Homo sapiens: one gene and its partners. The protein of the gene in region 3 interacts with the protein of the main gene of each other region in a pairwise test. Each region holds a gene or a part of one and is shown on either strand. Other genes may lie near its edges.

What was found.
Region 1: the proteins of C1orf94 (region 3) and BOLL interact in binary tests that used the Homo sapiens proteins (3 or more experiments, as listed by UniProt).
Region 2: the proteins of C1orf94 (region 3) and RBM47 interact in binary tests that used the Homo sapiens proteins (3 or more experiments, as listed by UniProt).
Region 4: the proteins of C1orf94 (region 3) and SMAP2 interact in binary tests that used the Homo sapiens proteins (3 or more experiments, as listed by UniProt).

What each region holds. Positions count from the first base shown.
Region 1 is NC_000002.12:197,726,175-197,734,004, forward strand, and holds the end of BOLL (protein boule-like), read right to left. Parts: intron 2,405-7,830; coding exon 2,381-2,404; coding exon of another isoform or gene 2,293-2,380; 3' UTR 716-2,292; downstream 1-715. UniProt on the Homo sapiens protein: Probable RNA-binding protein, which may be required during spermatogenesis. May act by binding to the 3'-UTR of mRNAs and regulating their translation.
Region 2 is NC_000004.12:40,430,576-40,438,475, forward strand, and holds part of RBM47 (RNA-binding protein 47), read right to left. Parts: coding exon 7,196-7,900; intron 6,073-7,195; coding exon 5,866-6,072; intron 2,288-5,865; coding exon 2,076-2,287; intron 1-2,075. UniProt on the Homo sapiens protein: Single-stranded RNA-binding protein that functions in a variety of RNA processes, including alternative splicing, RNA stabilization, and RNA editing. Functions as an enzyme-substrate adapter for the cytidine deaminase APOBEC1.
Region 3 is NC_000001.11:34,179,589-34,187,488, reverse strand, and holds part of C1orf94 (uncharacterized protein C1orf94), read right to left. Parts: intron 1-7,900.
Region 4 is NC_000001.11:40,368,148-40,376,987, forward strand, and holds the start of SMAP2 (stromal membrane-associated protein 2), read left to right. Parts: upstream 1-5,579; 5' UTR 5,580-5,973; coding exon 5,974-6,076; intron 6,077-6,485; exon of another isoform or gene 6,486-6,548; coding exon of another isoform or gene 6,549-6,561; intron 6,562-7,599; exon of another isoform or gene 7,600-7,669; intron 7,670-8,840.

The DNA of each region.
Region 1 (7,830 bases), on a different chromosome or scaffold from region 3:
CAGATTTGCCTTTCAAAATGGGTCCTAAGTAAAACCTTAATTTTCAAAATTATCAGAGATATACTACAAAATAGAAATAAATAAAATGGGCTTTACTTAGTATATGTAAGGAGAATTTTTGTCTCTCAATCTATCTGTTTTTAGAAGTAACATGTGTGGGGCTGGGTACAATGGCTCACGCCTGTAATCTCAGCACTTTGGATGGCCAAAGTAGGAAGATCACTTGAGCCCAGGAGTTTGAGACCAGCTTGGGGAACCTAGTAAGACCCTGTCTCTACAAAAAATAAAAAATTAGCTGGGTGTGGTGGTGCATGCCTGTAATCCTAGCTACTAGGGAGGCTGAGGTGAAAGGATGGCTTAAGCCCAGGAGTTTGAGGTCACAGTGAGCCATGATCGCATAACTGCATTCCAACCTGGGCCCCAGAGCAAGACAGTCTCTTAAAAAAAAAAAAAAAAAAAAAAAAAGTAACATGTTTGGGCTATTAAGCTAGGCCATGAAGAAGGCTGTATGATATCCTCCATTTATTCAGATTGTCAAACTCCCAAAATTTTTAGTAGCTTCTCAAAATAAAGCTAAATTCTAAGAAAGTGCATATGTATAAATTATATATGTGTGTGTATATATGCATATAAACATGTATATATGTGTATGCATATAATCTATATAGTTGTGGAAGAAACACACTTGGGTATCAATTATCATCAAAATTCCTTATCCAATAATACATAATTAATTTTTATTAACAGTCCAGGATTTGTTTAGCATCTTGTTTAACATTTGAAAATCAAAACATAAACTTTTTGGTTCTCAAGGATAGTGCTATTAAAAGAAAATCTTGAACATCAGTGGTTAGTAATTTTTTACTTACAGAACAAAAACTTCTGAAATTTCATTGTGGGACTTAATCTATTTACATTCCTAAAACTGAGAATAATTAATGTATTTGAGATCCTTGTATGCTAGTATACATTCATAAGGTTCTACTGTTCTCATGAAGCCATTTGACTGGCAAACATATTCATTACAGTTTCAAAAGAAAACACCCTATTTGACTCACCAGAAAAACCTTTGTGATCTATATCCTACTATTTCTGCTGCTGCTGCTGAGCATGGAATACATGTGGGGTTGAAACAGGGGAGGAAAGAGATAGATTTATTAGGGTAATACCAACTTTTATGGCTCCCCCTGCCCCCTCCACCTAAAATTAGGAGGTCAGTGAAAGAACTGCAAATGAATGTAAAGAGGAATATTTCCTGTACTACTGTAGAAATTTTAGAGATTAAAAACCCCTATGATTTGTTCTGTACCTTTTGAACAATGAATGACACCCCTCCCATCTATTTTCCAATTTTATAGTAAAAATCGGATTTAGAATCAGAATCTAAAATTTTCCTTTGGTGTAAAAAATAGTTTTGCATTTTATGAAAACAATTGTCCTTTTAAAAATTAATCACATATATAATTGAATATATTGGTTGCATATCAGAAGAAAAGGTTTAAGGATTAAAGCATTCAAAGAACAGTAATTTGGTGGAATTTCAGTCAGTGTTATGGGATCATGTCAGAGATGAACCCTTTTATCAAAATTCCAAAGGTGGATCCATATTTTATAAAATTTGATACCAAATAAATTATGTTATAGGAAGATTTCAATATTGTCTCAAACACTGGAGAAAAAATTTAATATAGTCAAATTACATGAAAAGGCAAGAATACTGATCATGTTGATGGTATTTCTAATATTTGGAAAATGTTATAAAAAAGAAGTATAAATACTATTCAGATTCTGAAAACCATGGCAGACGCAAAATTAAATAAGGAGTAACAGTAATAAATGAATTAAAAATTAGACAAAAGCATATTAAATGACAAAACAGCAAAGCAAAAATAGAATTGTCATTAATATTAAATAGTATACTGTTGTAAAATATATGAAAGTATTAAAAGTATTATAATTAAAAATGATTCTTATCCTAAATATGAAAATAAATATCAAATAATATGAAACATAACATCTAATTGTTTGATAAGAAAAAATAACACAAAGCAGAGAAAATAAAAGACACCTCACTATTCCCAATGTGGTTATTATTTATGGAATGGATAAAACATGTTGTAGAAAAGGTCATTACAGTTAGGTTAGCACATAAAAAACCAACATGCCACATCTACCTAAATAATTTTGTAGAACAGCTGAAAAAGCAAATTTCATCAAATTTAGACAGCTTATAGTGGAATAACTGAGTATGGTGAGGTATTAACTAACACTAAGTTTCACAACGGGCAGCTTCTAGCTGGTTCGTTGAAGCTGGATCTCGGCCACGCAAGGATCATTGGACAAGAAATCAGTTGAGCTGGAATAGAGCTGCCCAATTGTCTTAATAATGAATGCTCCACACTGTCTGTTAAGTAAAGAGAAAATATAGATCAGGAAGACTGAATGGAAAAAAAAAGATAAGTTAGAACAGATGAGTACAGACCATCAATCAACATTCACTAAATATTTGCAGAACCTTGGTACCAATTAAATTAGAATGTTACAAAGTGAGAGGCTAGCAATTTAGGAGGGCTCCAGAACTCAGGAAAACCTGCTCTCTGAGAGCTTAGAATCTATATTAGACAATCTCTAGTCTAGTGTTACAGTATAAATGTTGAGTAAATAAAATGAGGGATGGGTCAGCACAGATTACGAGTTACAACATTTCCTTCTATTAGGTGGGTCTTAAAAACTTGTTTTTAAAAGGGGAATAGTATTTTTGGCAGGAGGCTATTTAGAACGCTGTCCAGGGGAGGAGCCAAGATGGCCGAATAGGAACAGCTCCGGTCTACAGCTCCCAGCGTGAGCGACGCAGAAGACGGGTGATTTCTGCATTTCCATCTGAGGTACCGGGTTCATCTCACTAGGGAGTGCCAGACAGTGGGCGCAGGTCAGTGGGTGCGTGCACCGTGCGCAAGCTGAAGCAGGGCGAGGCATTGCCTCACTTGGGAAGCGCAAGGGGTCAGGGAGTTCCCTTTCTGAGTCAAAGAAAGGGGTGATGGACGGCACCTGGAAAATCGGGTCACTACTGCGCTTTTCCGACGGGCTTAAAAAACGGCGCACCACGAGATTATATCTCGCACCTGGCTCGGAGGGTCCTACGCCCACGGAGTCTCGCTGATTGCTAGCACAGCAGTCTGAGCTCTAACTGCAAGGCGGCAGCGAGGCTGGGGGAGGGGCGCCCGCCATTGCCCAGGCTTGATTAGGTAAACAAAGCAGCTGGGAAGCTCCAACTGGGTGGAGCCCAGCACAGCTCAAGGAGGCCTGCCTGCCTCTGTAGGCTCCACCTCTGGGGGCAGGGCACAGACAAACAAAAAGATCAGTAACCTCTGCAGACTTAAATGTCCCTGTCTGACAGCTTTGAAGAGAGCAGTGGTTTTCCCAGCATGCAGCTGGAGATCTGAGAACGGGCAGACTGCCTCCTCAAGTGGGTCCCTGACCCCTGACCCCCAAGCAGCCTAACTGGGAGGCACCCCCCACCAGGGGCACACTGACACCTCACAGGGCAGGGTATTCCAACAGACCTGCAGCTGAGGGTCCTCTCTGTTAGAAGGAAAACTAACAAACAGAAAGGACATCCACACCAAAAACCCATCTGTACATCACCATCATCAAAGACCAAAAGTAGATAAAACCACAAAGATGGGGAAAAAACAGAACAGAAAAACTGGAAACTCTAAAAAGCAGAGTGTCTCTCCTCCTCCAAAGGAACGCAGTTCCTCACCAGCAACAGAACAAAGCTGGATGGGGAATGACTTTGACGAGCTGAGAGAAGAAGGCTTCAGACGATCAAATTACTCTGAGCTACGGGAGGACATTCAAACCAAAGGCAAAGAAGTTGAAAACTTTGAAAAAAATTTAGAAGAATGTATAACTAGAATAACCAATACAGAGAAGTGCTTAAAGGAGCTGATGGAGCTGAAAACCAAGGCTCGAGAACTACGTGAAGAATGAAGAAGCCTCAGGAGCCAATGCGATCAACTGGAAGAAAGGGTATCAGCGATGGAAGATGAAATGAATGAAATGAAGCGAGAAGGGAAGTTTAGAGAAAAAAGAATAAAAAGAAATGAGCAAAGCCTCCAAGAAATATGGGACTATGTGAAAAGACCAAATCTACGTCTGACTGGTGTACCTGAAAGTGATGGGGAGAATGGAACCAAGTTGGAAAACACTCTGCAGGATATTATCCAGGAGAACTTCCCCAATCTAGCAAGGCAGGCCAACGTTCAGATTCAGGAAATACAGAGAACGCCACAAAGATACTCCTCGAGAAGAGCAACTCCAAGACACATAATTGTCAGATTCACCAAAGTTGAAATGAAGGAAAAAATGTTGAGGGCAGCCAGAGAGAAAGGTCGGGTTACCCTCAAAGGGAAGCCCATCAGACTAACAGCGGATCTCTCGGCAGAAACCCTACAAGCCAGAAGAGAGTGGGGGCCAATATTCAACATTCTTAAAGAAAAGAATTTTCAACCCAGAATTTCATATCCAGCCAAACTAAGCTTCATAAGTGAAGGAGAAATAAAATCTTTTACAGACAAGCAAATGCTGAGAGATTTTGTCACCACCAGGCCTGCCTTACAAGAGCTCCTAAAGGAAGCACTAAACATGGAAAGGAACAACCGGTACCAGCCGCTGCAAAATCATGCCAAAATGTAAAGACCATCGAGACTAGGAAGAAACTGCATCAACTAATGAGAAAAATAACCAGCTAACATCATAATGACAGGATCAAATTCACACATAACAATATTAACTTTAAATGTAAATGGACTAAATGCTCCAATTAAAAGACACAGACTGGCAAATTGGATAAAGAGTCAAGACCCATCAGTGTGCTGTATTCAGGAAACCCACCTCACTTGCAGAGACACACATAGGCTCAAAATAAAAGGATGGAGGAAGACCTACCAAGCCAATGGAAAACAAAAAAAGGCAGGGGTTGCAATCCTGGTCTTGGATAAAACAGACTTTAAACCAACAAAGATCAAAAGAGACAAAGAAGGCCATTACATAATGGTAAAGGGATCAGTTCAACAAGAAGAGCTAACTATCCTAAATATATATGCACCCAATACAGGAGCACCAAGATTCATAAAGCAAGTCCTGAGTGACCTACAAAGAGACTTAGACTCCCACACATTAATAATGGGAGACTTTAACACCCCACTGTCAACATTAGACAGATCAACGAGACAGAAAGTCAACAAGGATACCCAGGAATTGAACTCAGCTCTGCACCAAGCAGACCTAACAGACATCTACAGAACTCTCCACCCCAAATCAACAGAATATACATTTTTTTCAGCACCACACCACACCTATTCCAAAATTGACCACATAGTTGGAAGTAAAGCTCTCCTCAGCAAATGTAAAAGAACAGAAATTATAACAAACTATCTCTCAGACCACAGTGCAATCAAACTAGAACTCAGGATTAAGAATCTCACTCAAAACTGCTCAAATACATGGAAACTGAACAACCTGCTCCTGAATGACTACTGGGTACATAACAAAATGAAGGCAGAAATAAAGATGTTCTTTGAAACCAACGAGAGCAAAGACACAACATACCAGAATCTCTGGGACGCATTCAAAGCAGTGTGTAGAGAGAAATTTATAGCACTAAATGCCCACAAGAGAAAGCAGGAAAGATACAAAATTGACACCCTAACCTCACAATTAAAAGAACTAGAAAAGCAAGAGCAAACACATTCAAAAGCTAGCAGAAGGCAAGAAATAACTAAGAGCAGAACTGAAGGAAATAGAGACACAAAAAACCCTTCAAAAAATTAATGAATCCAGGAGCTGGTTTTTTGAAAGGATCAACAAAATTGATAGACCGCTAGCAAGACTAATAAAGAAAAAAAGAGAGAAGAATCAAATAGACGCAATAAAAAATGATAAAGGGGATATCACCACCGAGCCCACAGAAATACAAACTACCATCAGAGAATACTACAAACACCTCTACGCAAATAAACTAGAAAATCTAGAAGAAATGGATAAATTTCTCGACACATACACTCTCCCAAGACTAAACCAGGAAGAAGTTGAATCTCTGAATAGACCAATAACAGGAGCTGAAATTGTGGCAATAATCAATAGCTTACCAACCAAAAAGAGTCCAGGACCAGATGGATTCACAGCTGAATTCTACCAGAGGTACAAGGAACAACTGGTACCATTCCTTCTGAAACTATTCCAATCAATAGAAAAAGAGGGAATCCTCCCTAACTCATTTTATGAGGCCAGCATCATTCTGATACCAAAGCCAGGAAGAGACACAACAAAAAAAGAGAATTTTAGACCAATATCCTTGATGAACATTGATGCAAAAATCCTCAATAAAATACTGGCAAAATGAATCCAGCAGCACATCAAAAAGCTTATCCACCATGATCAAGTGGGCTTCATCCCTGGGATGCAAGACTGGTTCAATATACGCAAATCAATAAATGTAATCCAGCATATAAACAGAGCCAAAGACAAAAACCACATGATTATCTGAATAGATGCAGAAAAAGCCTTTGACAAAATTCAACAACCCTTCATGCTAAAAACTCTCAATAAATTAGGTATTGATGGGACGTATTTCAAAATAATAAGAGCTATCTATGACAAACCCACAGCCAATATCATACTGAATGGGCAAAAACTGGAAGCATTCCCTTTGAAAACTGGCACAAGACGGGGATGCCCTCTCTCACCACTCCTATTCAACATAGTGTTGGAAGTTCTGGCCAGGGCAATTAGGCAGGAGAAGGAAATAAAGGGTATTCAATTAGGAAAAGAGGAAGTCAAATTGTCCCTGTTTGCAGACGACATGATTGTATATCTAGAAAACCCCATTGTCTCAGCCCAAAATCTCCTTAGGCTGATAAGCAACTTCAGCAAAGTCTCAGGATACAAAATCAATGTACAAAAATCACAAGCATTCTTATACACCAACAACAGACAAACAGAGAGCCAAATCATGAGTGAACTCCCATTCACAATTGCTTCAAAGAGAATAAAATACCTAGGAATCCAACTTACAAGGGATGTGAAGGACCTCTTCAAGGAGAACTACAAACCACTGCTCAACGAAATAAAAGAGGATACAAACAAATGGAAGAACATTCCATGCTCATGGGTAGGAAGAATCAATATCGTGAAAATGGCCATACTGCCCAAGGTAATTTACAGATTCAATGCCATCCCCATCAAGCTACCAATGACTTTCTTCACAGAATTGGAAGAAACTACTTTAAAGTTCATATGGAACCAAAAAAGAGCCCGCATCGCCAAGTCAATCCTAAGCCAAAAGAACAAAGCTGGAGGCATCACGCTACCTGACTTCAAACTATACTACAAGGCTACAGTAACCAAAACAGCATGGTACTGGTACCAAAACAGAGATAGAGACCAATGGAACAGAACAGAGCCCTCAGAAATAATGCCACATATCTACAACTATCTGATCTTTGACAAGCCTGAGAAAAACAAGCAATGGGGAAAGGATTCCCTATTTAATAAATGGTGCTGGGAAAACTGGCTAGCCATATGTAGAAAGCTGAAACTGGATCCCTTCCTTACACCTTACACAAGAATTAATTCAAGATGGATTAAAGACTTACATGTTAGACGTAAAACCATAAAAACCCTAGAAGAAAACCTAGGCAATACCATTCAAGACATAGGCATGGGCAAGGACTTCATGTCTAAAACACCAAAAGCCATGGCAACAAAAGCCAAAATTGACAAATGGGATCTAATTAAACTCAAGAGCTTCTGCACAGCAAAAGAAAC
Region 2 (7,900 bases), on a different chromosome or scaffold from region 3:
AAAGATAAATAAGCTTCAATTAGTCTGCCCTTTCTGAATAATGCAGTCAAGACTAGTGTTCAGAGTGGGCAAAAGCAAGTAAACAGCATCCTACTGTGGAGGGTCACAGGCCTGGCTCTGTTTCAGAATCATTGAGGAGCTGTGCAAAATATCAATTCTAGGACTCCAGCCCAGTTTGACCGAATTGGAATCTTCAGGGATTAGAGTCTAAGAATCTCTGTTTTTTAAAAAATGTAGGCAACGGCTCATGCCTGTAATCCCAGCACTTGGGGAGCTTGAGGTGGGAGGATCGCTTGAGCCCAGGAGTTCAATACCAGCTTGGGCAACATAGCAAGACTTTGTCCCTACAAATAAAAAAGTTAGCCGGGCATGGTGGTGCGTGTTTGTGGTCCCAACTACTTGGGAGGCTGAGGTGGGAGGATTGCTTGAACCAGGGAGGTTGAGGTTGCAGTGAGCCATGCACTCCAGCCTGGGTGACAGAGTGAGACTGTCTCAAAAAAATCAAAAATCAAAAATCAAAAAAAGTGGCCTGGATAATTCTTTTTCAATTGGATAAGGGATCCTGGGCCTGAGTACTTGTGATCGGTATTCATGATTCACTGCCTCACAGAAAACAGCTTTAACAAGATTTTCTTCTGTTAAATGGATGTCCTCCCTATGTCCTATAAGGTGAAGATACAAAGAAACAGGACACAGTCTTTGGTCTGTAGGAGCTTCATTTTCCTTGGGAGATAGAACACACTGGCAGCCATAGGCCAAGTAATGATGTAGTAATCAGGAGTACAAGAGAGAAAATTTCATGGCCGGGCGCGGTGGCTCACGCCTGTAATCCCAGCACTTTGGGAGGCCAAGGTGGGCGGATCACGAGGTCAGGAGATTGAGACTATCCTGGCTGACACGGTGAAACCCCGTCTCTACTAAAAATACAAAAAATTAGCCGGGCATGGTGGCGTGCGCCTGTAGTCCCAGCTACTCGGGAGGCTGAGGCAGGAGAATGGCGTGAACCTGGGAGGCGGAGCTTGCAGTGAGCCGAGATGGCGCCACTGCGCTCCAGCCTGGGCGACAGAGCGAGACTCCGTCTAAAAAAAAAAAAAAAAGAGAGAGAAAATTTATCTAGGAGGTGGATGGGAAAGATTCTATGGAAGAGATGAGAATAAAGAAACCAGGATACACTATGAAAAAGGTGGGGAAGGAGGCCAACATGGTAAGATGAGTTTGGGAAGAGATAGGGGAACAGTGGGAGATATGGTTGGAAGAGAGGATTATGGGCATATTTTGTAAATTTATTTTTGAGACAGGGTCTCACTCTGTTGCCCAGGCTGGAGTGCAGTAGTGCAATCACAGATCACTGCAGCCTTGACCTCAAGGCTGGTCAAGTGGTCCTCCTGCCTCAGCCTCCCCAGTAGCTGGGACTACAGGCATATGCCACCATGCCAGGCTAATTTAAAAAAAAAAAATTGTAGAGACAGTGTCTCACCATGTTGCCCAGGCTGGTCCTGAACTCCTGGCCTCAAGTGATCCTCCCATCTTGGCCTCCCTATGTGCTGGGATTACAGGCATGAGCCACTGTACCCAGCACAAAATTTTACGTATCTATACAGATGTTCTTTCTCTCTCTCTCTCTCTTTACACACACACACACACACACACACACACACACACACACACGGGGGTTAACATTTTTTTAAAAAATCTTCATTGAGCTGCAGTTTGAAATGTGAAAATGTGAAATCACTCCCTGGACTTTGTGTGTCAGCTCTTTAACAATATGAGCTAAAAATTATCCAGTGCTATTTTAAAAAAATATATGCACAATATTATGACACTGTGAAAAATTACACATAATTTTTGCATATTGATTACCACCCTTAATACAATGATATTATTAGGGTAGTACAATTAATTAAAAATTTTTTTTTCTGTCATGCTTCAAATTCAAAATGCTTTGTGTCACCCAACCATAGCTGTAACAGAGAGCCAGGCACACAGTAAATTCTCAGTGCTGAATACTAAATGAATCCATGTTAAAGAGAGGCTTCACACACAAATGACAATGCCTGCAATAAGAACTCTACCTGGAAAGGTGGTGGCGTCGACACAGTGGGAATGACAGCGGCTGCGGCGGCTGCGGCCGCGGCTGCGGCGGCAGCAGCACTGGCTGGGTCTGGCTGCACAGCAATGGGGCTGATCATGTGCTCCACTGTGTGGATTTTGCCATCTTCAATCATTTTAGGGGCTGGAGCTGCTGGAAACATGGAATACTGAGCCCCAATGGCAGGGATGGCTACTGCAAGAGAAGCAAGAAGGAAAAACAGGTCAATCACTTTCAGTCGCTGAGTGGGGTCCAGCACTTGCTCTAAGATATTTTTTATTTTTATTTTTTTAAAAACTTTTCTTTTTTTTGAGACAGGGTCTCACTCTGTGGCCCAGGCTGGAATGCAGTGGTGCGATCAAGGCTCACTGCAGCCTCAATCTCTTGGCCTCAAGAGATCCTCCCACCTCAGCCTCCTGAGTAGCTGGGACTACAGGTACAGGCCACCTTGCCCAGCTTTTTGTTTTTGCTGTTGTAGAGACAGGGTTTCGCCACGTTGCCCAGGCTGGTCTTGAACTCCTGAGCTCAAGCGATCCAACTGCCTTGGCCTCCCAAAGTGCTGGGATTACAGGTGTGAGCCACCGCGCCCAGCCTAAGATATTTTTTAAAACCACGTTTAGAGGTCCTGGGCCTCTCCATGCTCACTATTGTTCTCTCAGTACAAGCCATGTACCCAGATGCCTGCTCCCTAGAGGAAGGGATGGGTGGTGGCAGGTAACTCCCCCTGCCTGTTGTGGAAGAGACCCCTAGAGTAAGGCTTTTGCACCAATATTTTCTACTATTTCTACAGAAAAATCACAGTTTGAATGTTATTCTTGATGTCCTACTGAGCAAGAAAGGGCCTCTGACTATGGGAAAACAGGCTTAGACGAAGAAGTGAGATCAGAGGCTTGAAGCCTACTGCCTGTGAGAGTTGGGCCTGCCTGTTCCTTCCTACTCACCTCACTCATTACCAGCCGCACTGCCTTTTTTTCACTTTCACCACTATTTAAGAAACAGGTGCTGTTGAGGGTTTCATTCTGAGAACTCAGACCTGTGTACATCCTCCCCACCCTGTATTTCAGATTTCAACATTACCGATTCAAGGAAAAACACATGGTAAAAAAAAATAGCACATTCCCCAGTTTCCTCATGCCCACGCAAAGTAGTGAAGATGTGGAGTGATTGGCTTTTAGTGGGACCTCCCAATTCAAAGAATTTCTGCAAGTAAAGTCCAAAATTATGATTTCAACCAGAGATTCAAACAGCAGCTATTGAATGTCAAGGTACAGTAAGAAGAGATCAAAAGGAAAAGATATCAGCCCTTTTGTGTGAGTGTGTGTGTGTGGGGCGGGGGTGTGTGTGTGTGTGTGTGTGTGTGTGTGTGTGTGTGTTGAAAGGACAAACAAAAATATGAAATGTGTACACAAAGAATCTTTCTATTTCTGGTTTTCTCCAACTGTAGGTACATTTATTCTAAATAGGACAGACTCAATCAAAGGTAAAGAGACAAATGATTGTAAGCTAAACAATGGTACAGCCATTCGATAAAATATACCTAAAACCTTAATCAAATCTTTTACCTGCCTTTCCAACCATATCTTCCACTGGTCTTGTGCCCAGATACTTCACCACCACCCTGGTGCCTCTCCTAAAATACAATGTTCTCATTTTCTGGATGATCAGAAATAGACGCCAATCGATGGGGCCCAGAGAGGGTTGTGAGTTTAAGCTACAAGGGGTTGTATGAAGTAAATGAATTGTTCTGGCTATCAGCCCACAGGAATTTCTACCTCAGGCTCCAGGACACAACTTTACATAGTTAAAGATTATTTAACAGTTCTTTTCTCTTGTTAAACCTTAAGCTACCGTAACTTGCCAAAGGGAGTTCCCTTCTCAACAAGTAGAAGCGACGACTCCCATATCCAGGCTCTATTTTATTAAGTTACAGAGCTGTGGGATCAGTTTTACTTTGCCCACAGTGCCAATGACATTTAAAAGGCAATCTAGTCTAAGGAGTCACTTAACTGCAGAAATTGCAGAATTTTTACACAGGCAAAAAAAAAAAAAAAAAAAAAAAAATCATTACTAGAATCATCAAAAGAAAGTTCAATTGGGGAAATGCTTTTTAACTCTATGAGGCCAATGTGTACCTATGTCCCAAATGCACAGATTCCTTGACTCTATTTTAGCTAGGGAGAGAAGTGTACAATCTCAACCAGAAGAAAATCAGAGTAGCTGGGCTCCAAACAGTTCTTCAACTTCCTCCTGCTGAAGCCAGGAGGGGTCTGGAGGAGGGTCGTGCCAATTACCCACGGACTGAGCTTTCCATGTGTTTGGATGCTTCTGCAGGGTGCTACGTGAGTTTGTGATAGACTCACACAATGGAGTTAATGTTTTTTGCAGGTTCGGATCAGAAGACCGGCCTCACATTAGATGGTCATGGGCACTAATGACATTAATAAACAGGTTTGTAGGGCCTGGAGGTGAAGGCTAAGTTCAGGGTCCCTGGCTTGAAATACTTGAGCATCCCTACTCCCAATCTACTGATCCAACTAGAGGAGGAAATGAGTGCTGGAAATGAGAAACCAGGGAATTAGCTGCAAAAATTTTCAGCAAAGGCCAGGTGCAGTGGCTCATGCCTGTAATCCCAGCACTTTGGGAGGCTCAGGCGGGTGGCTCACTTGAGGTCAGGAGTTCGAGAACAGCCTGGGCAATGTGGTGAAACCCCATCTCTACTAAATATACAAAAATTAGCCAGGCATGGTGGTGCGCGCCTGTAGTTCCAGCTACTCGGGAGGTTGAGGCAGGAGAATCGCTTAACCCGGGAGGTGGAGGTTGCAGTGTGCCGAGATCATGCCACTGCACTCCAGCCCGGGTGACACAGCAAGACTCCATCTCAAACAACAACAAAACTTTCACCACTGCCTTGTCCTCAAGCATTCTTATTTGCTCAGACCATGACAAGGGACAAAAGGTGCTGCTTACTCCTGAAGGGGAATTTTCTGCCCTTCCAAACAACTCTCAGAATGGGGCAATAAGCTCTACCCTCCGACTTCAGATGGTCGGGGCAGAAATAGGCCTGAGTAAGGAAAAGACAGGTTTTACCTGATAGAAGATACAGAGAGCCTCATGTTCTTCCTTTCTTCCCCCTACAACTCTCCTTACTTAGCCACAGACTGAGACAAAACCTAACAATGGGTGACAGCCCTTTGAAAACCTTACTGCATGGCCAGGCGCAGTGGCTCACTCCTCTAATCCCAGCACTTTGGGAGGCCGAGACGGGTGGATCATAAGGTCAGGAGATCGAGACCATCCTGGCTAACACGGTGAAACCCCATCTCTACTAAAAATACAAAAAAAAAAAAAAAAAAAATTAGCCGGGCATGGTGGTGGGCACCTGTAGTCCCAGCTATTCTGGAGGCTGAGATAGGAGAATGGTGTGCACCCAGGAGGCAGAGCTTGCAGTGAGCCAAGATCATGCCACTGCACTCCAGCCTGGGCGACAGAGCGAGACTCTGTCTCAAAAAAAAAAAAAAACAAACAAACAAACAAACAAAAAAAAACCTTACTCAGGCAAGTTTGATTTGAACATAGTCAAAGCTACACCATCCCCTGAAGTTCTAGATAAGGAGGTCCAGGGGGTCACTTTATTTTTGCCTTGTCTCTAGCTGCCTAGGAGAAGAGGAACCCCTGTGCAGATGTGAGAGCCTGAAAAACGCTTGGATTCACTTCAAACAGAAGGGCTGGGGTTTATGCTGAATGGGAGCATTCTCAATCTGCTTCATACTGACCTGTACCAGGTTTAATGGCAACTGGGTTGACGGTAGGGATTTCCAAATTCGGCACCAGTTCATATCCTTTTTCTTGCTGCTTTCCTTTCCCTTCATGATATCGGCTATATATACCACGACCAGCAGAATATCCCCCGAGGTAGGAACCCCTAGGCCCTGGGGCTCTGTTGCCAGCTGCACCTCGCCCTCGGCCTCTTATGCTGCCTGCTTGTAATAACAACACAAAAGATGATCAGCAACCAACAGTGACGGTGCTGGAGGCAGACCTCAGCCCTCGGTTCTCGGCATTTAACTGCCCCAGTCTTAATTGCAGGTGGCTACACCTTTGCTCTTTAATAGGCTGGTAAAGATGCTTCCAACATTCTATTTCAGCCTAGATTTGCATCCTAAGCATGTCTTCTTAGTACAAGAGGCAAACTTGCAGGGTGAGTTTCTAGGATTGTATCTGCAATTTCAGTAAAGAAAAACATTCATAGACTACCCACCACCCCCTCCCCCCCGCCAAAAAAAAAACTGTGGCCAGGTGTGGTGTCTTATGCCTGTAATCCCAGCACTTTGGGAGGCTGAGGCGAGAGGATGGCTTGAGCCCAGGGGTTCAAGACCAGCCTGGGGAGCATGGTGAGACCCTGTCTCAAAAAAAAAAAAAAAAAATATATATATATATATATATAAAATACATATATATATATATAAAATACATATATATATATAAAATACATATATATATATATAATACATATATATATACTATTAAATAATTTTTTTTAAAGTTAGCTTTGGAAGGGGATTTGCTGGTCCACCTTCCTCATTTCATGCTTGAGAAAACAGGCCAGGGGAGATTAAAGTGACTAACTAAAGTCACAGACCCAGTTAATCAGAGAACAGGACCCAGAACCTATGTATCTTATTTTCCAGGTTATGCTGGGTGTCATTATATCCTAATCAGTGATAACAAAAAACAAAATTAAAAATCACGGACTCCACCAACATCTTAAGATTTAATATCACAAGCAGGTTTTAACGTAAGCACCAAGAGAATGGTGGACTAGCCCCTAACCCGGTGGACCTCGGCAAGGAAGAATTCCAGCACTTGCATATTCCTGTGATTTTACCGCTCACCCCAGAACGATCTGTATTTCTATCAGTGCTGCATAAGTGACGGCCTTCGGTGCCAGGAAAGAATTAGACCCAGAATGCAAACCCAAAACGGGGGTGGGAGGGCCTTCAGCACCTACCAGCTCAGCAAATGCCAGCCACGGTATCCCTGGTGCCCCCTGCCTAGGAGGCAACGTTCTTGGGGGCCCCACCCAGGAGAAGAGCCCCCACTAACCTTTCACAAAGTAGTCCCTGTTGGGCCCAATGAGCGCGTTGTAGGGGTAGCCGTAGTAGGCCAGTGTGTAGGGGTCGCAGGAGTACACGTAGCTGGGCTGCTGCGCTGCCTCAGCCGCGCCGCCGCCCCTGGCTGCCTTCTGGTAGCGCGAGTACTGCTCCTTGTCCACGGGCTTGGCCAGCGTGACCTCCAGGCACGAGCCCTCCAGCTCAGTGCCGTTGAGGTTGTTCATGGCATGCACGGCATCCTCGCGGCTGGTGAAGTGCACGAAGGCGTAGTCGCGGATCTTCTTGACGCGCTCCACGCAGCCGGGGTTGAACTGGCCGAAGCTCTTCTTGATGGTGTCCTCGGTGGTCTCGATCATGAGGTTGCGCACGTAGAGGATCTTCACGGTCTCCATCACGTCCTCGTCCACGTCGATCTCAGGTTCGGCCCAGTCCACGGCGATCTGGTGGCCCCACAGCTGGATGCGGCCAGGCATGAGCTTGCGGCGAGCCATGGCAGCCGCGCGGTGGCTCTCGTACTCCACGAAGGCGAAGCCGCGGTTCTTCATCTTGTCGGCCGCGCTGGCGTAGACGATCACGTCCAGCACGCCCTCGGTGACCTTGGCAATCTCCTCCAGGATTTCCTCGCGCTTCTTCATCTTGGGGATCCCGCCGATGAAGAGGCGGCAGTTGTCCACGCTGCAGCACACGCCGAGCAGGC
Region 3 (7,900 bases):
AACCTGCGACACAGCTCCCGAAACCATAAAATTAAATTACAAAGGGGGACATGGGAAGTGGGACGTTAATCATGATTCATCTTTCTTCACCACTCATGGCTCCTGGTACTAAGCAGACGTGGAAGGGCTATTCGGAAGGGCCCATGGTTCCGGGTAGAACTCAAGCCTTGAAGCCACATCAAACTCTTATCCGTGCTCTGCTTCCTCTGAGCTGGATGACCTTGGGCAACTTGCTTAACCTCTCTGAGCCTCACCTTTCTCATCTATAAAATGGGAGTAATATTGACCTTTTACTGGGAAGGGTTGCTAAGATAGTGAAATAAAGCAGAAAATGAAAATATAGAGCCTGGCACCTATAAAGTACTCAAGAAAATGTTAGTTCTGTTTTCTGCAGCCTAAGACAGAAGGAGGAAAAAACCTGCAATGTCTTGAGCTATTGATATTCTGTGCTTCCTCTGATGACCGTGACCCCTTGCTTCGATCCTGGCTACCTCTGGGTGGTGGCAGTTTTATGGCTTATTCACCATTCACTTCCTTATTTATTCATACCCACTGCATAGCCACCAAGTGCCAGGAACTCAGCTGGGCACTGGGGAGACAAAGATGAGTAAGACACAGACCTTGCCCTTAAGAAGCCCATAGTGCAGTAGCGGAAGAGGAATTGTTGCCACAAGGCAGCACACGATATGTGCCAGGTGCCCACCACCTCATCAGAATCCCACACTGGAACTGGGCTGATAGCCCCGATTAAGGGGCTGTGTCCTTCCCTCTGGCCAATGGTCAAGAAGAGAGCTGATTTTAAACAGATTCTTCCATTCTATCGTCCTCAAAAGATCTATCCCATGTAGCTCTCAGAGCTGGGGAAGCATTTGTCTCTTATGATGACCCCTTCTGCTTTCTCTTAGAAGACAATATGAGTTATGAAAACCGAATGCTATGATCTCCCTTTATGCCCTGGCTGCCAAGAATCTCAAACCAGATGCTGTTATCAGTTGAGCAGTTTCCCTTCAGCCTAAGTTTCCTGGCATATATATCTCCTTGTCCCATATCAATCATGTCCTGTTATTTTATCCATGATAATGACAATGATGATGGTGGAATGGTGATGATGATGATGAACATCGAGTCCTTCTCTTATTCCCAGTGCTGTGTGAGCTCTACATATATCATTTCATTTGCTTCCATAGTAATCCCTTGAAATAGTCGCTGTGACTTTTCCCATTTTTTCAGATGAGGAAAATAGGGCACAGAAAGTTTGGGGAACTTGCTTACAGCTAGAAAGTGTGCTGGAACTCTAATCCACCTGTCTCCTTATTTTTTGTTATCTGGGCCACCTTAAAACACTTAGGAAAGAGGTGGGACATAGTTGTTTATTTCAATTAAAAAGAGGAATGTGGGAAAAAGAGAAAGAAAAATGTTGAATGATGTGAGCAACAAAGAATTCAGAGGACAACACACTTATTCTAGGTCCTTAAGGATGGATAAGATTTAGATAGACAGAGATATGGGAGAAGGGCATTCCTGGTAGTGGAATAACATGAGCAAAGGCAAGGTGACATGCACCTGCTGGTAGCTCTTGTTGGTTTATAGAGCATGTGCAGGAGACCAGCAAGACGTGCATCTAGAGATGGAGGCAGGGCCACTACAGAGACCCCTGAAAACCAGGCCCAAGGGGCCAGAGGACAAGGCGAGCCATGAGAGATGTCTGAGCAGTGCTGTTGACCTGCTTCAGAAGATGAAATTGGTGAAGGGTGGAGGGCATCCTGGAGGGAAAGGCACCCAATGCAGTGAGAAGAGATGTGGTGAGGGTGGCAGAGGAGAGACGAGCAGGGAGGCAAGGCACCAAAGGCCATCATGAAGGGGGACTGCCAGGACGTGTGGCAGGCTGGAGGAGGGAAGAGCCAGTGTCTGCCAGCACTAGCTCACTTGACAAACAAGAACAGGGGTGCATCAGTGTCAATGGGACTGGGGTGCTGAGACCCAGCATTGGGAAGCTCAAGAGAGGGAAAGGCTGGGTGCAAGGGCTCACGCCTATAATCCCAGCACTTTGAGAGGCCAAGCCAGGTGGATCACCTGAGATCAGGAGTCCGAGACCAGACTGACTAATATGGTGAAACCCTGTCTCTACTAAAAATACAAAAATTAGCCAGGCATGGAGGTGCATGCCTGTAATCTCAGCTACTTGGGAGGCTGAGGCAGGAGAATTGCTTGAACCCGGGAGGTGGAGGTTGCAGTGAGCCAAGATCGCGCCACTGCACTCCAGCCTGGGTGACAGAGCGAGACTCCATCTAAAAAATAAAAATAAATTTAAAAATAAAGTAAAATAAAGAGAGAGGGAGACACTTGCTTAAGGGTTGGGTCTCAGAGCAAAGGGTTCCAACTTGTGGCCCACGGGGTCTCTGAAATCATTCCCAAATACTGAGAGATGTGAGGATGTGTTTCAGACAAAAGCTGCACAGAAGCTTTTTCTCAGATTTTCAAAGAGGTATTGACCCCTCCAAGAGGAGAAAACACTAGTTGAGATTAGACTCCAAAGATCTTCAGAGCTGGCTTCTAGTCTGAGACATCAGCCTGAGTTTCCGTATCTGAGTCTTGTCTTTATCACTCCCATCACCAGGTTTCAAGCTTTTTAAAGAATAATGCTAAAAAAAAAACCAAAAAAAACAAAAGAGGCTATGTATTCCAAGCAACTTTTCCAGAGAAGTCGGGTTCACCTAATTGTTTAAATAACAGTAGCACAAAGAGATGTTTGTTGGGAGAGCCATTCAAGCAAGGAAGCCGAGTGGATTCCCAAATATCACTTGCTCACCAGTGTGGAGAACTGGCCAATGGAAGCCAACAGTGAAAGTTTACCAAAATAAGTGCAAAAAAGCCTTCTTCCTTCTTGCAACAAATAGCCTCAGAAAGCTGCCAATCAATAAACCACTTCTGTTTTTCAAAAAATGCTTAAACAGATTTCTTTTATTTCAGTAGATTTATCTCCCTACCTGAGTCTGGCTTGGAATAATGCTCACCAAAGCCTTTCCACTCTGCAGACCAAGTTTGTTATGACAGGTAAATGGGAAAGTCTTGGGTGCTGACAGAGGGCCTGGAAGCATCCAGGGAAGCCAACCACACCCAGCAAGCTCGAGCCACCTTCTCCCGGTCACTAACACATGCTACACTTCACTCCCATGTAACTTCTCATCTTTCCCTGCGCCTGCTGCTGGGCTCTTTCCATAGGCTGTTCTTTCTCTCTTCTCAAGACCTAGCTGGGGGACATAACTATGGAAACCTTTGCAGTTATTAATCATGACATCCCTGCTACCTGCGGACTACACCCGCATCTTTCATCACACAGTGCAGGGGTCTCATCTGTTGCTGCTTCAGATTGCTTCCCTCAGAGGAAGACTTCCCTAAGTACCAAGCCCAGTCCAGTAGTCAAGTACAATGTTCAGTCATGTGTCCCCTCAGTGCGCTTCCATGGCACTGGCACTTCATCACCAGAACACTTACTATAGTGTGTTGTGATCTGCCTTTTGCAAGATGTTGAAAGTTCATAAAGGAGGTCAGAGACTGTCCCCAGCTTTTCCACCATTGTATTTTTTTCAGACATTTCAGTAATAGGTGCATACTAATTTTTTTTTTTTTTTGAGACGGAGTTTTGCTCTTGTTACCCAGACTGGAGTGCAATGGCACAATCTCGGCTCACTGCAACCTCTGCCTCCTGGGTTCAATCAATTCTTCTGCCTCAGCCTCCTGAGTAGCTGGGATTATAGGCACCTGCCACCACGCTCAGCTGATTTTTGTATTTTTAGTAGAGACAGGGTTTTACCATGTTAGCCAGGCTGATCTCAAAACTCCTGACCTCAAGTGATCCACCCACCTCGGCCTCCCAAAGTGCTGGGATTATAGGCATAAGCCACCGCACCTGGCAATATTTGTTGAATGTCATTGTTGTCAGATGTATCTGTGTTCATGCCACCCACTAGACTGGGAGCTCTTTGAGGAAAGGCTTCTGTTCTGCTTATCTCTGTGTCCCTGGGACCCATCATACAGCCTGGTACTGCGAAGGCAATTGTGTTTGTTGAATGAATTCATGAATGAAGAAATGAACAAATGTCATTCTGTAGTTAGGGCAACGGAGTCAACAGCAAATCCAAAGACCTCATTCTGAGGCTTTGAAGTTTTAGAGATTAGGGGAATGAATGAATAAGTAATCCTTGAATAAGTGGCTTGCCACAATTCTCTAAGCCCAAACTTAAGACTAACTAAAAGATAACTGAACCAGATTTTGGAGTTAAATCAGCACTAGACAGAACTATTGATTTCTCCCCCAAAACCCATTGCTCCCCATTTCTTCCCCACCTTTGTAAATGGCACACCGTCCAACCAGGGGCTCAAGCTTGGAATACATAGCCTCTTTTATTATCATTATTATTTTGAAAGCTTGAAACTTGGTGATGGGAGTGATAAAGACAAGACTCAGACATGGAACTCAGGCTGATGTCTTAGACTAGAAACCAGCTCTGGAGATCTTTGGAGTCTAATGCTCTTGGCTAGTGTTTTCTCCTCTTGGAGGGGTCAACACCTCTTTGAAAATCTGAGGAAAGCTTCTCTACACCCTTTTGCCGGAAAGACATCCTCCCAGCTCTCAGCATTTGGGGAATTACTTCAGAGACCCCATGGGCCACAGGTTGGAATCCTTTGCTCTGAGGCCCTACACTCCCCACCTTGAGTTTGCCAGTGTTCGGTCTCAACACCCCAGTCACATTGATAGTGATGCATGCCCCCATCCTTGTTTGTCAAGTGAACTCGTGCGTGAAGCAGAGCATGAGCCTCAATGTGTCTGTTTGTGTACCCAAATCATGAGTAGGTCCATTGGCTCATCTTAAAACACACAGTTGAATCCTCCACTTTTTCCATCCCTACTGCAGTCACTCCTACCCAGCCACTGCCACCATTAGGCCTCCCCTGGACTCTGACAGTATCTTCCCAGAGGCCTCCCACTTCCTCTCCCACACACTTACAAACCATCTCCACACAGAAGCTGGACAGAGATTCAAACATTAGTGAATCTGTTCATGTCACACCCCTTCCTAAAAACCTGCAAAAGTGTTCCATAACATGTGGAATAAAATCTGAACTCCCCGCAGTGATCCTCCAGGCCTCCTGAGGCCTTGCCTGCCTGTCTCTGTTATACTTATACCATGGCCATGTCCCCATCCCTCCTGACTCTCCCGTCTCGCTGTCCCTCTCAAAGCTCACTCCCACCTCACAGTCTTTGCATTTGCTTTTCCTTTTGGTTTTGTTTTGAGACAGGGTCTCACTCTGTCGCCCAGGCTGGAGTGCAGTAGTGCAATCTTGGCTCATTGCAGCCTCGACTTTCCTGAGCTCAAGTGTTCCTTTCGCTTCACCCTCCCGAGTAGCTAGAACTACAGGTGTGTGCCACCATGCCCAGCTAATTTTTGTATTTTTTGTAGAGATGAGGTCTTGCCATGTTGCCCAGGCTGGTCTTGAACTCCTGGGCTCAAGCGTTCTGCCCACCTCAGCCTCCCAAAGTGTTGGGATTGCAGGCTTTAGCCACCATGCCTGGCCCTTGCTCTCCATTTTGCCCAAATGTTCTTTCCAGAACTTCCCTTGACTGGCTCCTTCTTAGAACCCAGGTCTCAGCCCAGATAATCACATCTCCTCAGAGAAGCCTTCCTTGACACCCAGACTAAAGGAGCTCTTCCTATCACTTCCCTCTGCTCTATTTCCATTATCACAGTTGTCACTGAAATTATCTTGTTTATTTTTGTGTGTTTCTTATGGGTCTCCTCCACTGGGAATACCATTCTTTTCACATTCTGAAGATATCATAGCTTTTGTATTTACTTGCTTCTTTTTTCTCCTATACTAGAATGTGAGCTCTAGGAAGGCAGGGATTAATGGAGTTCACAGCTCCATCCCCCTAGTTTCTCACACAGTTCTAGCATATAGTAGATGTTTAATAAATATCTGTTGAATGAATAATTGAATGAATGAATTAAGAGATTGAAAATGTGTCCACAGAGTGAAAGTCGACTTGGGGAAAAAAGTGAGTGTAGTATTGGTTGTCATTAACAGGAAACAGAATGCAGACAGGGAGGATCAAATCTGCATGGATTGGATCACCCCTGGATTATTGTACTTGGCTTTCAAAGTTACACTGCCACAAGGACCAACAGTGTGGACAGGAAACTAACCAAATTGGCACATGGGGAGAAACTTAGAAAACCAGAGGTGGTTAGCTTATAGAGACAAAAACATTCTGGGAGGAATATTGTTGCTGTCTTGCTGTCTTTCACTATCCAAAGGGGTATCGAAAGAAAAAAGACATAGATTTGGCTTGGAGTACTAAGGGCAGAATCCAGATCAATGGGAATTAGTTTGATAGAGACATATTTCAGTGATAGAAAGCAAAAGGTATTTTGAGGGGGTTCATAGCAAGGGAAGGGGCAGCAAAGGGAAGTGGTAAGCTCCCCATCTGATAAACTGTACCAAGTGGTACAAGTGCACCACTTGGCAGGGACAGTAAGGAGGGGATTCGAGCAGCGGAAGATGGCTTCAAAAATCTCTTTCAAATTTGAAATGTCTAGGTTCCTATGATAAATAGGTGCAGAGTCAAGAAAAACAAATTCTGGCCAAAAAGAATTGTAGAATGCACTTACCTATCTACCACAATACAAGAAAACACCACCAAAACCAGGTCTACAAATTAAGCAGCAGAAAGACCAGCTGAGAGATATCTTGTGCACCTGAAGGCATTCTAGAAATAGTAAGAACAGCTCCCTGGCTTTTCACTCTGTGTGTGATCATTCAGTATATGGGACTCCCAACTATTTTGACTATTCAAAGATGCCCCAGATTCTAAGACAGGACAGCCGACATTATTGCCTCAGGGCCAAGGCGGTCTTGGGTTTCATTTCTGAAACTCTACTACTTCCTAACTGTAGGAGCTTGGGCAAAGAAATTAACCCCTCCAAACCTCAGCCACGTTATCTGTAAAAGTAATTTCACTTATAAATGGAGGGGTGGAGGTAGCAATTGAAACCAGAATGGCACAATGTGATAATTATTGAAACTCAGTGATAGACACATAGATATTCACCATATTATTATTCTATGTGTTTGAAAATTTGCATAATAAAAAGTAAAAAGAGATGGAAAGTTTAAAAGAGTACCTACCTCATGCAATAATTGTAGAGCTTAAAGAAATGATCACATCTGAATTGCAAGGAATTTTTACAAATCTGAATTATTACCATAAATGTTTAAATATCCCATTTAATCATTCCAACAACCCTACAAAATGTATAGTATTAATCTCCATTTGGCAGATGAGGAAACCAAAGTTTAGATAAATTAAAGAGTAACAAATTCTTCAAATGGCATGGGGCTGAAATGGAATCTGAAACCAGAGTTATCTGACTCCACCAGCACACCGCCTTTATTTTAAGAATAGCTCATTGTGTTCTATTTGGTTGACAATTAGGATGTCGTTTATTCGTCTAAGTCATTGGTTTCCTATCTCTTTTCTCAATAGCAGAAACATGTTTTTCAAATTCAGCCCTACTCAGAACTCTAGTAAGTAAAACTGATAAAAGCTAAACAGCTCTGGCTGAAATGGATTTTGGGGCCCAGCAACCAGCCCACTTGACTCCACAGTGACCCCTGAAGCACCTTGAGGTATATGGAGCATAGTGTGAACCCCAGATTGAAGCCAACAACAACAAAAACAACAACAACAACAACAAATCCCAACCTGAAGAAGTACATGTTAAGAGCAGCCTGATTTGTATAATGCATCTTTCATTTCCCTGTCTCCCATCACATTGGATCCTCATTATCAACTCTGAGGTAGACAAGGCAGCACATATCACCCTCAATTTGCAAATGA
Region 4 (8,840 bases), 6.2 Mb from region 3:
ACCAGGAAGAAGTTGAATCTCTTAATAGACCAATAACAGGAGCTGAAATTGTGGCAATAATCAATAGCTTACCAACCAAAAAGAGTCCAGGACTAGATGGATTCACAGCCGAATTCTACCAGAGGTACAAGGAGGAACTGGTACCATTCCTTCTGAAACTATTCCAATCAATAGAAAAAGAGGGAATCCTCCCTAACTCATTTTATGAGGCCAGCATCATTCTGATACCAAAGCCGGGCAGAGACACAACAAAAAAAGAGAATTTTAGACCAATATCCTTGATGAACATTGATGCAAAAATCCTCAATAAAATACTGGCAAACCGAATCCAGCAGCACATCAAAAAGCTTATCCACCATGATCAAGTGGGCTTCATCCCTGGGATGCAAGGCTGGTTCAATATACGCAAATCAATAAATGTAATCCAGCATATAAACAGAACCAAAGACAAAAACCACATGATTATCTCAATAGATGCAGAAAAAGCCTTTGACAAAATTCAACAACCCTTCATGCTAAAAACTCTCAATAAATTAGGTATTGATGGGACGTATTTCAAAATAATAAGAGCTATCTATGACAAACCCATAGCCAATATCATACTGAATGGGCAAAAACTGGAAGCATTCCCTTTGAAAACTGGCACAAGACAGGGATGCCCTCTCTCACCACTCCTATTCAACATAGTGTTGGAAGTTCTGGCCAGGGCAATTAGGCAGGAGAAGGAAATAAAGGGTATTCAATTAGGAAAAGAGGAAGTCAAATTGTCCCTGTTTGCAGATGACATGATTGTATATCTAGAAAACCCCATTGTCTCAGCCCAAAATCTCCTTAAGCTGATAAGCAACTTCAGCAAAGTCTCAGGATACAAAATCAATGTACAAAAATCACAAGCATTCTTATACACCAACAACAGACAAACAGAGAGCCAAATCATGAGTGAACTCCCATTCACAATTGCTTCAAAGAGAATAAAATACCTAGGAATCCAACTTACAAGGGATGTGAAGGACCTCTTCAAGGAGAACTACAAACCACTGCTCAAGGAAATAAAAGAGGATACAAACAAATGGAAGAACATTCCATGCTCATGGGTAGGAAGAATCAATATTGTGAAAATGGCCATACTGCCCAAGGTAATTTACAGATTCAATGCCATCCCCATCAAGCTACCAATGACTTTCTTCACAGAATTGGAAAAAACTACTTTAAAGTTCATATGGAACCAAAAAAGAGCCCACATCGCCAAGTCAATCCTAAGCCAAAAGAACAAAGCTGGAGGCATCACACTACCTGACTTCAAACTTTACTACAAGGCTACAATAACCAAAACAGCATGGTACTGGTACCAAAACAGAGATATAGATCAATGGAACAGAACAGAGCCCTCAGAAATAACGCCGCATACCTACAACTGTCTGATCTTTGACAAACCTGAGAAAAACAAGAAATGGGGAAAGGATTCCCTATTTAATAAATGGTGCTGGGAAAACTGGCTAGCCATATGTAGAAAGCTGAAACTGGATCCCTTCCTTACACCTTATACAAAAATCAATTCAAGATGGATTAAAGATTTAAACGTTAGACCTAAAACCATAAAAACCCTAGAAGAAAACCTAGGCATTACCATTCAGAACATAGGCATGGGCAAGGACTTCATGTCCAAAACACCAAAAGCAATGGCAACAAAAGACAAAATTGACAAATGGGATCTAATTAAACTAAAGAGCTTCTGCACAGCAAAAGAAACTACCATCAGAGTGAACAGGCAACCTACAAAATGGGAGAAAATTTTCGCAACCTACTCATCTGACAAAGGGCTAATATCCAGAATCTACAATGAACTCAACCAAATTTACAAGAAAAAAACAAACAACCCCATCAAAAAGTGGGCAAAGGACATGAACAGACACTTCTCAAAAGAAGACATTTATGCAGCCAAAAAACACATGAAAAAATGCTCATCATCACTGGCCATCAGAGAAATGCAAATCAAAACCACAATGAGATACCATCTCACACCAGTTAGAATGGCAATCATTAAAAAGTCAGGAAACAACAGGTGCTGGAGAGGATGTGGAGAAATAGGAACACTTTTACATTGTTGGTGGGACTGTAAACTAGTTCAACCATTGTGGAAGTCAGTGTGGCGATTCCTCAGGGATCTAGAACTAGAAATACCATTTGACCCAGCCATCCCATTACTGGGTATATACCCAAATGACTATAAATCATGCTGCTATAAAGACACATGCACACGTATGTTTATTGCGGCATTATTCACAATAGCAAAGACTTGGAACCAACCCAAATGTCCAACAATGATAGACTGGATTAAGAAAATGTGGCACATATACACCATGGAATACTATGCAGCCATAAAAAATGATGAGTTCATGTCCTTTGTAGGGACATGGATGAAATTGGAAATCATCATTCTTAGTAAACTATCACAAGAACAAAAAACCAAACACCGCATATTCTCACTCATAGGTGGGAATTGAACAATGAGATCACATGGACACAGGAAGGGGAATATCACACTCTGGGGACTGTGGTGGGGTAGGGGGAGGGGGGAGGGATAGCATTGGGAGATATACCTAATGCTAGATGACGAGTTAGTGGGTGCAGCGCACCAGCATGGCACATGTATACATATGTAACTAACCTGCACAATGTGCACATGTACCCTAAAACTTAAAGTATAATAAAAAAAAAAAAAAAAGAAAAGAAAATTCTATAACTGGCCAGGCGCGGTGGCTCATGCCAGTAATCCTAGTACTTTGGGAGGCTGAGGTGGGCGGGTCACGAGGTCAGGAGATTGAGACCATCCTGGCTAACAGGGTGAAACCCTGCCTCTATTAAAATACAAAAAATTAGCCAGGAGTGGTGGCACGTGCCTGTAGTCCTAGCTACTTGGGAGGCTGAGGCAGGAGAATTGCTTGAACCTGGGAGGCGGAGGTTGCAGTGAGCCGAGATCGCACCACTGCACTCCAGCCTGGCGACAGAGCGAGACTCGGTCTCAAAAAAAAAAATTTTATAACTAATGTGGAAACAGTTTTATGATAAGATAACATGTGCATGATGGAACAGAGTGAACATTTTTGCAAGACTAGTCAAAGCAAAATTCAAGACTTCAAAAAAAAAAATGTGTACTTGGGAGGAGCAGTTTGCTTTGTTTATATCCTCAGACCCTGGGCTATGCACTCACTTTACTCTGCTATTAGTAATGATAATAAAAAGAGCTAATACTTGATGTATCTGCTAGGATAGGCTAGCTTATACAGTGGTAAACAAACAAAACTCAATGGCAACACAATGCTTATTTCTTGCTTATGCTAAGTTATCCTCTATGGGCTGGCAGAGAGCTCTTGTTTATCAGCTACACAGAAATCCAGGCTAATAGAGCAACCAACATCTTCAGCATCAATAGTTGCCATGCCAGAGGGAAAGAGAAGCACAAGAGGCTCAAAGCAACAAATAAATGCTTCAGAGACAAAGTAATCCATCCTTTCTGCTCAAACTCATTGGTCTTTCCCAATCACTTGAAGGCCAGGAAATAAAATCCTACCATGTGCTCAGAAGGCAAAACGCCAGAAATATTTAGTGAAGAGCGCTAATTGTCTATCATTCACTATCTACCAAGGGCTGTTCTAATTATATTACAGGCATTATCTCAGCTAAGCCTCATAATAATCTTGTGAAATAGGTACTATTAATGTTATCATCATTCCCATTCTATAGATGAAATAACTGAGGCACCAAGAGGCTAAGTAACCTGCTCAAAGTCACACAGATAATAGGTGGTAAAAGCTGAAGATTTAAACTTAAGCATTCTTGCCCCAGAGTCTGTGTGCTTAACCACAAAGCCATGAGATCTCTCACTAGGTGGGAACAATTTGAGAAACACTGCCATAGGCAATGGAGAGCCACTAAAGGATTTTTTAAGCAGGAAGTGTGAGTCCATCAGAATTGGCATTTAAAAGCTCCCTCTAGAGAGCACGGTGAAGGATTAATTTAACCAGATTTAGACTAAGGCAGGAAGGCTATTTGCAGAGTGAGGAGATGAAGATGGGGAGGGCTTGAACTAAGGTACAATCACCACTCACCGCAATTAACTGGGTTTTGTTGTTGTTGTTGTTGTTTGAGACAGGGTAACGGGGTACATTGGGGGTTGGAGGGGTGGTTCTTACTGTGTTGCCCAGGCTGGATTCCAACTCCTGGGCTCAAGTGATGCTCTGGCTCTGGCATCCTGAGTAGCTAGGACTACAGGTATGTGCCACCACACCCAGTAACTAGTTAATCTTGACTGTCTATTTCAACTGAAAAATGGTTATGGTAATACCTACTTGGATGGGTTTTCTGAGGAAAAACACCCCAATGAACTTGTGTGTTTTTAAAAGTCAAGTCCCCTAGGCATGGCTAGAAGGGAAGAGGCTTAGCCAGAAAATTTAATTGTTGTGATTAATAAAGTAATAGAAATGTTTAGTTTTCCTCTGATGAGATGAAAGCTTTGAGGGGATCCTGGTCTTGGGAGAAAGTAAAGAAATGGAGGAGAGGGTTTCACCAGAGTTTAGATAACTCTTAGCATCTGCTTACTATCTTCCCTGATTAATTATTTCCATGGCAGCCAGAGTGACCTTTTAAAACCACAAATCGGATCATGCTGTTTCCCTCTCCCCTAGTACAGTGCCTGATACTTAGAAATTTCTCAGTAACATCGTGCTCAGTGAATGAATGAATGAATGAGTGAATGAAAACACAAGCCAGATGGCAGGTGGATCCCTAAGGAAAAGGACAGCCAATGAGAAATTATCTGTAGCAACGGTGGCTTTGGATGATGATGTTTAATAATCATTTTTAAGGAGTTGCCTGTTGTGTGCTATGCTTTAATCACTGTCCCCCACCCTTCCCAAATAACGTTCAGTAAAAGTCTGCCACAAAAAACTCGCTGTTTTGTGAGAATTTAAGAAATGGAAGAAGAAACAAACTGTCTGGGCACCAGGCCAAACAATATCCAAAAAGGCAGGAGTCACAGAGGAGAGCTAATGAGTATTAGTGGGAGCAGGTATTCCAAGTGAGAGGTGACCAGAGTCCTCTGAAAATGTGGGGAGGGGGTGACGTTCCTATATCCTGGGTTAGGGGCTTGGACTCTTATATTTGGCTGTTGGAAAAAACAAGCTGGAGGACTTTGGGGTATCAACAACCCTCAGGTTACATAAGGATGATCATAGGGTCGTTGTGAGGATTATGTTGGGATAGTTCATGCAAAGCGCTTAACACAGTGCCTAGCGCATAGTAAGAGCTCAGTAAATGTTAGTTGTTGTCTTCCTTCACTTTCTTCCATTCCCTCCACTCCCTTTCTACCAGGCTCCATTCATTCTCTTCCAAGGACACGCAGGGGGCGTGCCCACCCCTTCCCTCCGCCCCCACCCAAGGCCCGCCCCCCGCTTCTCCACGGATTGGTTCCCGAGAGGCGGAGCTGAAGGAAGAGCCCAGTGCGGCGCGGTGGGGGCGGGGCGCATGCGCGAGCTGGGCAGGGTGGAGGTGGGGAGGAAGAGCTGCCGGAAGTAGGCGGTGGAGGTGGTAGCGGAGCTGACGGCAGCTGCCAGGGAAACCGAGGCGCGGGACGCAAGGCCAGCAGACAGGCCGGCCAGAGGGTCATCTGCGTCCGGCACCCAGGAGGCTCGTGGTCCGCCTTTGCCTGGGCTGAGGGTCTCTGGCCCCGCAGCCTCTCTTGGAGGCGGGCCTGTCCCTAAGCCCGCCAAGGGGCGCCGCGCCGAGGGGCTGCGGAGTGGGGGACGGACGCCCCCGACCCGGGAAGGGGCGTCCGGCGGGGCCGGAGGAGAGGGCTCTCCCCGCTCAGGAGGTGCCCCTGGGCGGGGGACCGGGAGTCCTCAACCCCGGACTGAGGCAGGGGTCTCTGGGGGCGAGGAGGGCGCGTCGCCCTCTGCCCCCGCCGGCACCCTGGCCATGACAGGCAAGTCGGTGAAGGACGTGGATCGGTACCAGGCTGTCCTGGCCAACCTGCTGCTGGAGGAGGATAACAAGTTTTGTGCAGATTGCCAGTCTAAAGGTAGCGCATCCCACCTGGCGGGCCAGGGGTCCAGCCGCGCCGGGGTGGTGGGGGTGGGCTGCGTGAAGAGGCGGTTTCTGAAGCTTAGGCCGCCCAACTCGGCTTATAAGTGGTAACGCGTGCTGCGCTTGCAGTGAGCCTACTGGGCTTTCTGCAGCTGGGGGATTGGTATGGGTAGAGCTTGCGAGGGCGAGTCTGTGTGTGTCGGGGAGGGTGGAGGTGATGGTGCGGGTGGAAGTTGCCTGGCGTGTTCAGGTGAGAATGTCTGTATTTGAGGGCTCTGAATGAGTTCTGGGCCGGCTGTCCAGAGAGAGCTCCCAGCATGTCACTTGCAAAGCTGGGGATGAACTGCATTGCGTGCGTGCGTGCGTGCGTGTGTGTGTGTGTGTGTGTGTGTGTGTGAGAGAGAGAGAGAGAGAATGACGAGGAGGAGGAGGAGGGAAGTGAGATGGCGGAAAGGAAAACTGCTTAAATGATTTTTAAAGGTGGTGATTTTTGCTTCCTGCTATTTGGTTAGCAACTCCTGTCATTTTGCAGCCTTGCTAAGATCTGACAAGAGTGCTTAGGTGACTTTATTCTTCTGGATGTGTGCAGTGGGAAACTGCCTTATGCAGTGACACAGTGCGGATTTCTAGGCAGTGTAGCCCTGGCTTGTAGAGTGCGTTGGAGGCCTATGTATGAGTGGTGGCAGAAACTAGCCGATTATGCCTGTAGTGCAGGATCCGTTTAATCAGTGGAGAGAGAAAGATGAATTCGATGAATTCATTGCTTCCATGGCGATTACACTTCTAAAGGTGAAATATGATCATTGTAAATTGGCAGAACCATTTAGTCTTTGTTTTCTGTGCCCTAGAAGATTCATGATTTGATACAATTAAAAGTCAGTACAATAGGAAATCTTGGTTATTAGTGAAATGTTGGCACTTGACATTTATACAAGCTTCTATGAATCTTTTTTTCCTGTATTTTCTAATTCTTTTGGCATATAATTGGAGGATTGGGAAAATTATTTTCCCTTTGGTTGGGTCGAAATGGATAGTTATATTTTGGGGGCGACAATTTACTTTTGTTCATAATGCAGTGGATTTGCCATGGTTGTTTGCCGTACAGCGTAGTGGGCATATACTATAAAACAAAGATTCAGTTATATTCGTATTTATCTATTTTGAGAAAGGAAGGACATATTTAATTGATGCTTTCACTTAATTACCTTTTATTTTTGAAGAATAAGGTTATAAAAGGAGAACAGGGGAGGGATACATAGACACCTAGTAATGTATTTTAGTGACCTCTACCAACAGATAAATGGAATGTGCCATTAGGAAAACAAATTCCTAGACTTCTTTCCTGAATTTTTGCATTAGCAATAATTCATTTTAAAAAGTATTTTAGAATCAATTTATGTTGAGTAGGTTAGCTTCTTGATTCTTGTTACATCTTCTGTTAGGTCTATTGGAAGATTTGGTTTATTTTAGGAGTGTATCTTGGCTTTATTCAAATTCCCTTATGTCCTCATTTGACAGATCTTGAGTCACAGTGAAGCAACCCACTGGAGTGAGCATTGCTGCATTTGGAGAGTCAGATGCCATTTTGGTGACTAGAACCCCCCCCCCCATTTCTCATATTACCCTTATACTTACTCATATTCCAATAAAATACAGCACATGGAAGAGAGAGGCTGATTCACTACTTCTTCCTCCAAATTTCCATTGCTTTTTATTTATTTTATTTTTTATTTTTATTTTTTGAGACAGTTTCGCTTTGTCGCCCAGGCTGGAGTGCAATGGTGCAATCTCGGCTCACTGCAACCTCTGCCTCCCGGGTTCAAGTGATTCTCCTGCCTCAGCCTCCCGAGTACCTGGGATTACAGGCGCCCGCCACCATGCCCAGCTGATTTTTGTATTTTTAGTAGAGACAGGGTTTCACCATGTTGGCCAGGCTGGTCTTGAACTCCTGACCTCAGGTGATCCACCCGCCTCAGCCTTCCAAAGTGCTGGGATTACAGGTGTGAGCCACCATGCCCAGCCCGAAATTTCCGTTGCTTTTTATTAATAAGCTTACTGGGGATCAGGTTATGAAATATCAGTTAATTCTTAATGAGAACTAGTAACTGCTGGCTTGTAAACTTTATTAACTACTGTTGATGGTAGAATCCTGGATCCTCAATTTCTTTTCAGAAGTTCGTTTTACATTTTACCAGGTGGCTTCAGGGACTTGGTCATTGTATTAAAAATGAGATGACAATGGGTCAGTCATCTTTAGATTATGACAAATAGGCATTTGTTGAGGCCTCTGTTTATCCAATTTATGAATTACCTATCCCATTCCACCCCTCCAAGCCCTCTCACTCTTTTTCCCCTGCTGTTTTCTAATTTTGGTTGTCATAATGATCATTTGGACAACTATCAGATTGTTGAAGGAAAAGACGTTTGGATCAATAAATTGTTACCTGTTAGCGCTGATAAAAAATACATTTCATTGGAGGAGGAATTTAAAAAGTGTTGGCTAAAATGAGAATTGGGTTTCAGTTTATTTACCTGTATTCCTGTGTCCTTTCCTAAAAAATTGGAAGTTAACTGTACAGGATATGGTGAGTGATTGCTCATCTATTAATATCCAGTTAGATGATGTGGCATAGACTATCGACCTATGAGCAGGTATTTTTGCAATGTTCCAAAATATAACTCTTTGGCAATGACTTTTATTTTTAAATTCTTATACTTATTTAGGAACATTTATTAGTTGACTTTCAAGGTATGTGATT